2 separate regions of the Homo sapiens genome follow, and region 1 is linked to region 2. The links come from fine-mapping of genetic effects on gene expression. A gene starts in region 2. The other region holds a variant in brackets. All regions are shown on one strand. Distances are between the middles of the regions. Region 1 overlaps LOC105376311 (a long non-coding RNA gene). Region 2 holds the start of WDR5-DT (WDR5 divergent transcript).

Region 1 (5,360 bases), 330 kb after region 2:
ACCCAGCCGCCCCCCCATTAGTGCCCACTCTGCACCACACGCACCTCTGCCCCGCTCACCCAGCCGCCCCCTCATTAGTGCCCACTCTGCGCCACACGCGCCTCTGCCCGGCTCACCCAGCCTCCCCCCCATTAGTGCCCACTCTGCGCCACACGCGCCTCTGCCCCGCTCACCCAGCCGCCCCCTCATTAGTGCCCACTCTGCACCACACGCGCCTCTGCCCCGCTCACCCAGCCGCCCCCTCATTAGTGCCCACTCTGCGCCACACGCGCCTCTGCCCGGCTCACCCAGCCTCCCCCCCATTAGTGCCCACTCTGCACCACACGCGCCTCTGCCCCGCTCACCCAGCCTCCCCCCCATTAGTGCCCACTCTGCACCACACGCGCCTCTGCCCGGCTCACCCAGCCGCCCCCCCATTAGTGCCCACTCTGCACCACACGCGCCTCTGCCCGGCTCACCCAGCCTCCCCCCCATTAGTGCCCACTCTGCACCACACGCGCCTCTGCCCCGCTCACCCAGCCTCCCCCCCATTAGTGCCCACTCTGCACCACACGCGCCTCTGCCCGGCTCACCCAGCCGCCCCCCCATTAGTGCCCACTCTGCACCACACGCGCCTCTGCCCCGCTCACCCAGCCTCCCCCCCATTAGTGCCCACTCTGCACCACACGCGCCTCTGCCCCGCTCACCCAGCCTCCCCCCCATTAGTGCCCACTCTGCGCCACACGCGCCTCTGCCCCGCTCACCCAGCCGCCCCCTCATTAGTGCCCACTCTGCACCACACGCGCCTCTGCCCCGCTCACCCAGCCGCCCCCTCATTAGTGCCCACTCTGCGCCACACGCGCCTCTGCCCCGCTCACCCAGCCGCCCCCTCATTAGTGCCCACTCTGCGCCACACGCGCCTCTGCCCCGCTCACCCAGCCGCCCCCTCATTAGTGCCCACTCTGCGCCACACGCGCCTCTGCCCCGCTCACCCAGCCGCCCCCTCATTAGTGCCCACTCTGCGCCACACGCGCCTCTGCCCCGCTCAGCCAGCCGCCCCCTCATTAGTGCCCACTCTGCGCCACACGCGCCTCTGCCCCGCTCACCCAGCCGCCCCCTCATTAGTGCCCACTCTGCGCCACACGCGCCTCTGCCCCGCTCACCCAGCCGCCCCCTCATTAGTGCCCACTCTGCACCATACGCGCCTCTGCCCCGCTCACCCAGCCGCCCCTCCATTAGTGCCCACTCTGTGCCACATGTGCCACTGCCCATGTCCCTTGCTTCAGTTCCAATGGGCCTACTGGCCTCGGATCCCTTGTCCACTCCAGGTCTGCACTTGGGAGATGGGGTCACCTGGTGCTGGGCCCCTGAAGTATGCCGATGACCTGGGCCCTGCAGAAGTGTCCAGCTTGGGGAGGCGGGAAGCAAAGCAGAGCTCCGGGGTGGCCTTTGATTTTCTACTTCCCCCAGCCCCATTCCAGGGACCCCTCCACCCTGCTACACCCACCTGCATGCAGGGACATGAGCCGAGAGCCCAGAGGGGACCCGTGAGAAGGGAGGGAGGAAAGTGAGAAGACTCCGGTACCAGCAGCCTGGAGTTACACTGGGACAACCAGACGCTCCAGGGTGCATCAGCAGAGGACGACCCTGTCCCTGAGCAGCTCCCAGGCGGCTCTGCCATCCTGGAGGCCCCTGGGGCGCTGTCCTATCAGCACCAAGCAGCTGTGCTCCCAAACTCTGGGGCGTGCAGCCTCAGGGCAAGGTGGCTTTGGGTGGCTGATGGTGCCCCCTCAGGGACTCTGAGCAGGTCTGAATCTTTCTGAGCCCTTGTTTCTTTAGGTACAAAGCAGAGATGCTTACCTGCCAGATGGAAGGTCTGGGGGAGGGGAAGGGACTTCAGAACACGCCGCTGGGGCATAAAATTATTTTGTGCAGGAGGCATTTGAGTTTCAGAAACCCCTTATCTGAATAAAAGCAGAGCCCCCCAAAAGAACTAGAAATAACTCAACTGCTGTACATCCCTCCCTGGAGTGGCCAGGGAAGATGGACTCTTATCATAGTCAGTGACGAGAAACCTCCATAGCACACGGATACGGGCGTGGTCCCAGAGCCACGCTACCCCAAATCTGTCCACCTCAGGGCCCATTTACCTTTCCAAAAAGCCATTCGTTTTCCTGTGTGTGCCCTTCTCCTTCTCCCCTGATTTTTGTGTACCTCTAAGAGGATATGTAAGCCCCAGATTCTAACCACTCCTCTGAATCCCATTTTCCTGTGGTCTCCCATGTACATTTCTACATGAAAACATTTTTTTCCTCTTCCTAATCTGCCTCTTGTCAGTTTAATTTGCAGGACACAGTGGCATCATCAGAGATGGCAGAGCTCTTTCACTCCATGGGAACTGCTCTTGGAGCCCCTGGCCCCTTGAGGGGACCTGAGACTCGGGGAGGAGGGAGGTCTGCTTATGTCAGGGTGGGGCTGGGCTGACCTGTCTCCATGCACATCAGGCAGCCTGGGTCCTGTCTCAGCCTGGCCAGCATGATCGACTCCTATTCCCACGTCCGAGCCCTTTGCAGGTATTACCTCCTTTCCAGAAGGGGCTGCTGCCTTTTGTTGCTCTTCCTAAATCAGGTCCTGGGCCAGGTAGTTTAGGAGCAATGAGGTCCTTAATGTTTATGGCCCCGTGCCCTCCTTCACAGGTGGGGGAGCTGAGGGTTTAGAGGGATGGCGCGACTTCCCCCGAGTGCCCCAGCAGGATATGAGGCCAGGCTGCTACATCCATCCCAGGACCCTAGGGCCCTGCAGGCGGAGGCTGGGACCTCTGCACCCACCTCAAAGGCCTGTCCATTTGCAGGGCGGGACTGCCCACGAGGCTGGGCCTGATCCAGCTCCAGACACCAACCCCATGGAATCCCAGTTCCACCTGGGGCAGCCTGTGATGAGCAGGTCACCTCACCTCTCCAAGCCTTGGTTTTATGTCTGTAAAGTAGAGGCAATGTTATCCCTCGCTGCACAGGGTTGATGCAACGGGGCAAGAAATAAGGTGGGGGAGACAGGCTGCCTGCGTTCCCCCCAACACGCATGC[T/G]CCCTCAGGAACCCGATGCCTGTGCAGCCTTGCCAGGCTAGCACGGGGACCTGCCTCTCAGAGGCAAGACCCAGAATGCACCCATAGTATGGCCACTTGATCTGGGACCCTGGCAACCTCCTCCCCTGTCTCTGGGCCTCAGTTTCTCCCCCTGCACCACGGGGGGCTACGCTAGTTGACTGGAGCCCCTTCTTGGCCCAGTTTGTGCAGAGCATGAAACCAGTCACCCGGGTGTCCTGCTGGCCTCCCAGACCATGCGATGCTGCTGGTTAGCAACCACAGAAACAAACGCATCAAGAGGCATTCCTTGGCTTTAAAAAGAGGCCGTTTGAAGAGGCAGGCCGGCCTCCCCCGCCCGGTGTGCCCGGCATCTGGGAGGGGCAGGGCTGGGAAGGTGATGAGTGCATGGCAGCCAGACCTTGGCTGGCCGGAGGAGGCCGGCGGGCTGGGGCCCTGGCTTTGGTCAGGCTTGTTTTATGTCAGGGTGACTTGGGCCGTGGAGGAGCCGCCGTCTTGCCAAAACAATGTTTAAAACATCTCGGAAAATGTGCAGCCACTTCTTTTCCACGGGATTCATGCCGAGTCTTCCTGGCTTGTTGGGGAGGGTTGAGGACTGGCCAGGAGGGAGTGAAGAGGGCGGCCACAGGAAAAAGAGTGAGAGACTTTAGACTGAGGCAGGGGCCTGTCCCTGCCCTGCCTGCCCTCCCTGTCTCTTCTCTCCCTGTCCCCCACCCCTCACCACCCACCCCAGGAAGTCAAAACTCTGTCTCTGTTTCTCTCGCCACCCCAGGCCACCCTAGGAAGTGGGCACTAAACCCATTTCACAGATGGGCAGCCACAGTGCTGGGGTAGGAAATGAGGATTCTGACCCACCCAGCGTGGGGGCTGGGAGCTGGATCGGCTACAGAATGTGTAGAGCCTCTGCAAAGAGAAAACAGAGGTCCCACATTCCAGATGGAAATAACTAAGAATTTTAAGAGGGCAACAACAAAGCATTAAACCAACTACAAGACCCTCCTGAGCCTGGGTTCTCACGAGCCGGGGTCCTCCTGAGCCTGGGTCCTCCTAAGCCTGGGATCCTCCTGAGCCTGGGTCCTCCTGAGCCTGGGGCCCTCCTAAGTCAGGGTCCTCCTGAGCCTGGATCCTCCTGAGCCTGGGTTCCTCCTGAGCCTGGGTCCTTCCATGTCAGGGTCCTCCTGAACTGGGGTCCTCCTGAGCCTGGGTCCTCCTGAGCATGGGTCCTCCTGAGCCTGGGTCCTCCTGAGCATGGGTCCTCCTGAGCCTGGGAACTTCTGAGCCTCGGGTCTTCCTGAGTCAGGGTCCTTCTGATCCTGGGTCCTCCTAAGTCTGGGGTCCTCCTGAGCCTGGGTCCTCCTGAGCCTGGGGCCCTCCTGAGCCTGGGGTCCTCCTGAGCCTGAGTCCTCCTGAGCCTGGGGTCCTCCTGAGCCTGGGTCCTCCTGAGCATGGGTCCTCCTGAGCCTGGGAACTTCTGAGCCTGGGGTCTTCCTGAGTCAGGGTCCTTCTGATCCTGGGTCCTCCTAAGTCTGGGGTCCTCCTGAGCCTGTGTCCTCCTGAGCCTGGGGCCCTCCTGAGCCTGGGGTCCTCCTGAGCCTGAGTCCTCCTGAGCCTGGGGTCCTCCTGAGCCTGGGTCCTCCTGAGCCTGGGGTCCTCCTGAGTCAGGGTCCTCCTGAGTTGGGGTCCTCCTGAGCCTGGGACCCTCCTAAGTCAGAGTCCTCCTGAGCCTGGGTCCTTCTGTGTCAGGGTCCTCCTGAACTGGGGTCCTCCTGAGCCTGGCAACTCCTGAGCCTGGGTCCTCCTGAAGCTGGGCCCTCCTGAATCAGGGTCCTCCTGAGTTGGGGTCTTTCTGAGCCTGGGTCCCTCCTGAGCCCAGGTCCTCCTGAGCCTGGGACCCTCCTGAGTAAGGGTCCTCCTGAGCCTCAGTCCTTCTGTGTCAGGGTCCTCCTGAACTGGAGTCCTCCAGAGCCTGGAAACTCCTGAGCCTGGGCCCTCCTGAGTCAGGGTCCTCCTGAGCCTGGGACCTCCTGAGCCTGGGAACTCCTGAACCTGGGGTCCTCCTGAGTCAGGGTCCTCCTGAGTTGGGGTCCTCTTGAGCCTGGGGTTCTCCTGAGCCTGGGACCCTCCTAAGTGAGAGTCCTCCTGAGCCTGGGTCCTTCCATGTCAGGGTCCTCCTGAACTGGGGTCCTCCTGAGCCTGGGTCCTCCTGAGCATGGGTCCTTCTGAGCCTGGAAACTTCTGAGCCTGGGGTCTTCCTGAGTCAGGGTCCTTCTGATCCTGGGTC
Region 2 (5,360 bases):
CTCACGCCTGTAATCCCAGCACTTTGGAGGCCAAGGCGGGTGGATCACCTGAGGTTAGGAGTTTGAGACCAGCCTGACCAACATGGTGAAACCCCATCTCTACTGAAAATACAAAATTAGCTGGGCGTGGTGGCGCATGCCTGTAATCCCAGCTACTCGGGAGGCTGAGGCAGGAGACTTGCTTGAACTCGGGAGGCCAAGGTTGTGGTGATCACCCCATTGCACTCCAGCCTGGGCAACAAGAGCAAACTCCGTCTCAAAAAAAAAAAAAAAAAAAAAAAAGAGAAAATCCTCTAACCCCATTCAGCAATTTTTGCAATCCACCCCTGCCTGCAGTCATAGCTAAAATTCTGAAACCATATAACGCCAGCAAGGAAGAGAATTTAACAAAGGCAAGTAATTTGCTTTACTAAGTTTTAAATCCTCTTATATCCTACCAAACAGTTGTCAGCCTCAGGAAAAAATATGGCAGGTGAAAATAGAAGAGAAAATAAGAATCACAGAAGAGGAACAAACACGATGGAGATTTTCAGAACATTAACTAGGCTTTGGCCACCAGCAGTGACTTAGTAAATGGAACTGTTTCTCTGAACATCTTTTTTATTTTTTTGAGACGGAGTTTTGCTCTTGTTGCCCAGGCTGGAGTGCAATGGTGCGATCTCGGCTCACTGCAACCTCTTTCCTGGGTTCCAGCGATTCTCCTTGCCTCAGCCTCAGCCTCAGGTGATCCCGACCTCAGGTGATCCACTCGCCTCAGCCTCCCAAAGTGCTGGGATTACAGGCGTGAGCCGCCGCGCCCGGCCGGATTTTCTCATTTTTACTAGAAGGTTCTATCTCCTGGGGGTGGGGTGAGGTGGTGAGACCAATTCACCTGGAAGTGGAAGCTGGGAACTTGGTTTGAGTTCTGAGGGTTCTGGGGTCTCGCCCCTTATCTTGCTTTGCCTGGAGGGCTGAAGGGCTGGAAATATTTTTGTTTTGGGGCTGGAACCAGGACTGCAGTTTGGGAGCCGGTGCTAGGTTGGAAGAGGAGGCGGGGTCTGGTAAGCACTTTAGCCGAATTGAGCAGTGGGAATTAGGGAATTGAGGGCAGTGGGAAGCTGGTTCTGAGTTTTAAACTGGGGAGTGACAGATCAGAGCTGGATTTTTAGGAGTTTCTCTGTTTGGAGGTTTAGAAAAGACCCAGGTGGGAGGTAGGGCTGGGGTGGGGAGGGAGAGAAGTGGACGATCTGAGAGCTGAGGTGGGGTGGAAGGAGAGCAGCGTGTCACGGGCTCGGGATTCCGGCCCAGGCGGCCAGGTGGACGGAGATAAAGATGCGCTTCTTCATCCGAACTGGGTTTGCTAACCTGTGACTGTCACCACTCCATGCTCCAGGGCACCTGGCCCAAGGGATCCGGCCTCTTGGGCACACAAATCCATATGGAGCCCTGAAGGACCAGACAGGGACCTTGCCTTCTCTGTGTCCTTCCTGGGAAGGGGACTCCAGACCAACTGCCAGTCTTCCGGTTCCACCTCTCTGACAACCGCTCACCTCACCCTCCTTGGCATTTTTATTTCAAATGCTCTATCCCTTTGTTTGCATGGGTTCCTGTGTCATATTCTGTGTTCCCATTTTTAATTGGAGAATAAGGGACTGTATGTTATTCTACCCACAGGCCTAGCTGAGGGGATAGGGAGGCCATGCCTACCTCCAAGGCTCTAAGAAGTGAAGCAGGCGGCGAGAATGTGCAGTCGTTGAGGCCAGAGGACCGGGCCTCAGCTTCTCCTTAAGCCCCTGAGTCCTCCTCTGGGGACCACCCCCTTGTACCTGGAGGTGAAAATGCCCGCCCAGGAGGGAAGGGCTGGCCCCGGGAGAGCCCGCTGCGAAGTGAGTTTGCGCACTGCGGAGCGGGCGCGGGTGACTCCAGAGCGGCCCTGCCAGTCCGCGGGGCTGGCGGGGAGCAGGTTCGTGCACCGCGGGCTCTGTGCATGCAGAGGCGGGAAGAGCCCCCAGCCCGGCAGCCGGCCCCGCGGGAAGGCGCAGCCCGGGCTTCCGAACCCTGTGAACGCGCAGGTTCCTGGTCTTCCAGATGGGCAGGAATCGTCCTGCCCGCCCGGGGTGGGAGGCCACATGGGGGCACTGCGCCCGGGCGCGGCCCCAGGTGCTTTCCAAATGCCCACTGCCGCTCTCATCCGTACCAGCGATGATCAAGAAGGGGCCTGGTCGCCCGGGGAGGTGCCCCGGCCCGAATCGACTCCGGAGACAACGCCGGGCGACGCCACCTGCGCAGGTCCCGGAGGGCCGCTGGTGTCTGTGTACAGGGCGTGCTGTCTGTGGAAACGCGAGGGCACACTAGCACTTTCCTGTATGTATTATTATACTTCAGTTTTTAGGAAGTGCATTAGAAGGGCCTGCACCAGTCAAATTCGGGGATTAAAGCTTTTAAGCGGGAAGCGCGCGCCCCGTGCTGTCCCTTTAAAGCGTTGGGCCGGCCCGAGGCATTCTGGCCGCTGTCGCTGCCCGTAGCGCTCCTCCGAGAGGCCGGCTTTGTGAGCTCGCCCCGCCCCCCGGACACCGCCCCCTCCCCTCGCGCACGCGCACTGCGCCCCCGCCGCCTGGCGCCCGCCCGAGCTGCCGCCTTGTCGAGCTGAGTCCGCGCTCCCGCCCAGGCGGCGGCCGACGCGACGCCCCGAGCGCCCGGCCCCGCCGCCGCGGCCCGGCAGGTAAGCGGGCAGCCGCCCGGCCCGGGGAACACAAGGCGGGCAGCGGGGCGGCGCCAGAAGCTTCCAAACCGCACCCGGCCGCCGCACGTGTTCCCCGCCGGGCCTCGGGCCAGGCCCAGCCCCGGGCGCTGCTCCCGCTGCAGCGGCCCCGCCCGGGACCCCCGCCCCGGCCCCTCGGTGGACGGCCGCGCGCGCAGTTCCCTCCACCCGGTCCGCCCCCACTCGCGCCCCCACCTCCGCCTCCCCGGCGGACCGCTGACAAGGCCAGAGCGCCGGCACTGGGTCCTCTTTCCCGCAGGCAGCGTGCCCGGCCTCACATCGCCCCTCTCCCTCCACTGCCCCTTCAGGGAAGGACCCCAGACCCACCAAGCCACTCAGTCCCTGGACGAGGTGCGCTTCCCCTCCTCGTAGAAACGCCCCCAGCCCGCTCCCGCCGCTCACCCCAACCCGAGGCAGCCAGGCTGCAGCTCGCTAGGTGGGGTCCTGGGGTGCGGGTCCTCGGTCCTGAACGGTAGGCCCACCGTGCCTCCTCGCGCGGGGCCGCAGACCTGTCCTGGCCGGTCTGCGAGAGCCATTTTGAGCGGTTACGTTCCCGGACCAAACAGAGGTCGGCCTGTTACATCGCTAACGACACTCCCTGCTGTCTCGCTTGCAAGTTTCCACTCACCCCGGTCCGTTTACCCATCTCCTCAAATGCTAGTTTAATCTGTGACCTGGGCAGGTGCTGTCCTAGCCGGTGGGGAAGACAGGAAAGCGAAGGACCCAGGCGGGGAGCCTGTCCAGGATCTCAGATAGGGAGAGCCAGGTCCCCACCTCTGTTGGGCCGGCCACCCGGCTGGTGTTTAAGATGCAGATTAATTCCTGTCTTTGCACACAGTATGCTTTTCTGACTGCATGTCACAGGCAGATTCCTGGGCTCCACCTCAGGGACTGAGGGACTCAGGAATCGGCCTGTGGCATGCAGTCCAGGAGGGCACACTGAGGTTTGGTTGCTCGGCTTCAGGTGGTCAGGCTTACCTGGATGAAAAGCAGTGGCTGCTAGGAGGAGCCAGGCAGCATCTGGTCTAGGGGCCGCCAATTCATCACCGTTCCCGTAACCTTGGCCCCCGCTTTCCTCAAGATCAAGTCTCCAACCTTCCTGTTCTCTCAAAAGGATTGTTCCACAGAGACACCTGAGTGTTCATGAAAATGCCAAGCCTTGGCCCGGCGCGGTGGCTCACGCCTGTAATCCTAGCACTTTGGGAGGCTGAGGCGGGCGGATTGCCTGAGGTCAGGAGTTCGAGACTAGCCTGGGCAACATGGCGAAACTCCGTCTCTACTAAAAATACAAAAGATTGGCCGGGCGTAGTGGTACGCGCCTGTAATCCCGGCTAAACTGGAGGCTGAGGCGCAAGAATTACTTGAACCCGGAAGGTGGAGGTTGTAGTGAGCCCAGATCGTGCACCTGGACTCTTTGGACTGTGTCTCAAAAAAAAAACAAAAACAAAAAAAAAACACGCCAAGCCTAGACCCCACCGACGTAGAAACTTGGTGGGTGTGTTGGGTCAAGAAATTGCATTCCCCGCCACCCCCCGACGGAGTTTCACTGTTTGGCCCAGGCTGGAGTGCAGTGGCGCAATCTTGGTTCTGCCTTCTGGTTTCAAGTGATTCTCCTGCCTCAGCCTCCCGAGTAGCTGGGATTACAGGGACCGACCACCACACCCGGCTAATTTCTGTATTTTTAGTAGGGAGGGGGTTTCTCCATGCTGGTCAGGCTGGTCTTGAACTTCCTGACCTCGTGATCTGCCCACCTCAGCCTCCCAAAGTGCTGAGATTACAGGCGTCAGCCACTGTGCCCAGCCATCATATTCTTAAAAGTCAAGTTAAGGTTGTTTTGTTTGTTTCTTTTACATGTTCATGTTTTTTGAGCCCAAAGGTTGGGGCAGGTTGGGCTTGAGCTGGGAGGGGCTGGACACCTTTTTTGTAAGACCGCCTATCTGTTGTTCCTCCTCTGAGGGTGTTTCCAGGCGTCTAGACTCACCCAGGTGAGTTGATGCTGACAGGAGCTGCTCGGCCTTCTGAGCTGCCTATTTCGCCTTCTGTTCCTCTGGTGTTTCGCTTGGGTAGGGCATGGGCACAGTTCACTCAGCTCTGGCCCTGGCCTGGCTGTCTAACGCTAGGACTGTTATAGTGGACTTTGCAGCTTTTTGCTTGGATTTCCTTAGTTCCTCTCTCTCCCTGTATTTGTCCAGCCTGCCAAGGAAAATGCAGCAGTTGGGTTAAATTGGCATGGCTAGGTTGCACTAATGACAAGTACCACGTAGCTGGCATTTACCGAGGACCGGTTTTGTACTGGCACTTTGTCCCCTGGGCAGCGCTACAGGGCCTGCCCCTCCTCTCCCCCTCTCTTGTACTGTACTCGGCCCTAGATGCAGCGTGATCCATCTTTGCGCAGGGAATCTTTGCTGCAGGTGAAATGGAGCGGTGGCCACACCTGTTCTCTGCAAAGTGGGTGTTGTAATTTCTCTGCCTTCCTCTTGGATGAAGACTTTGAGACATGCTTTTTAATGCCTTCCATTTCGCGTTAGTGTTACAATCAGCCTGTGCAAGATTTCAGTTCCAAGCTCCAAGCTAGAATTTACAGTGTGTAAACTCATTAGATTGATGGTAGTGCTAGCTT

What was found. PIP is the estimated chance that this variant, and not a neighbour inherited with it, causes the effect. A credible set is the group of variants that fine-mapping cannot tell apart.
Region 1: its variant is the best candidate, but not a certain one, in a credible set for the expression of WDR5-DT in ileum (GTEx, PIP 0.68).

Annotation. Positions count from the first base shown.
Region 1 is chr9:134,465,751-134,471,110 of GRCh38, forward strand. All of the region lies in intron 1 of LOC105376311 (a long non-coding RNA gene), which reads left to right. Among named protein-coding and RNA genes, the nearest start is that of MIR4669, 89 kb to the left of the region's middle. The variant T/G (reference allele first, on the strand shown) is at 3,062.
Region 2 is chr9:134,133,500-134,138,859 of GRCh38, forward strand. It overlaps WDR5-DT (WDR5 divergent transcript), which reads right to left and starts at 2,483. Exons shown (of 2, transcript NR_186420.1): 1 at 1,687-2,483. It overlaps WDR5 (WD repeat domain 5), which reads left to right and starts at 2,583. Exons shown (of 14, transcript NM_017588.3): 1 at 2,583-2,701. RefSeq lists enhancers at 1,624-1,733, 2,640-3,564 and silencers at 1,924-2,093, 2,534-2,713.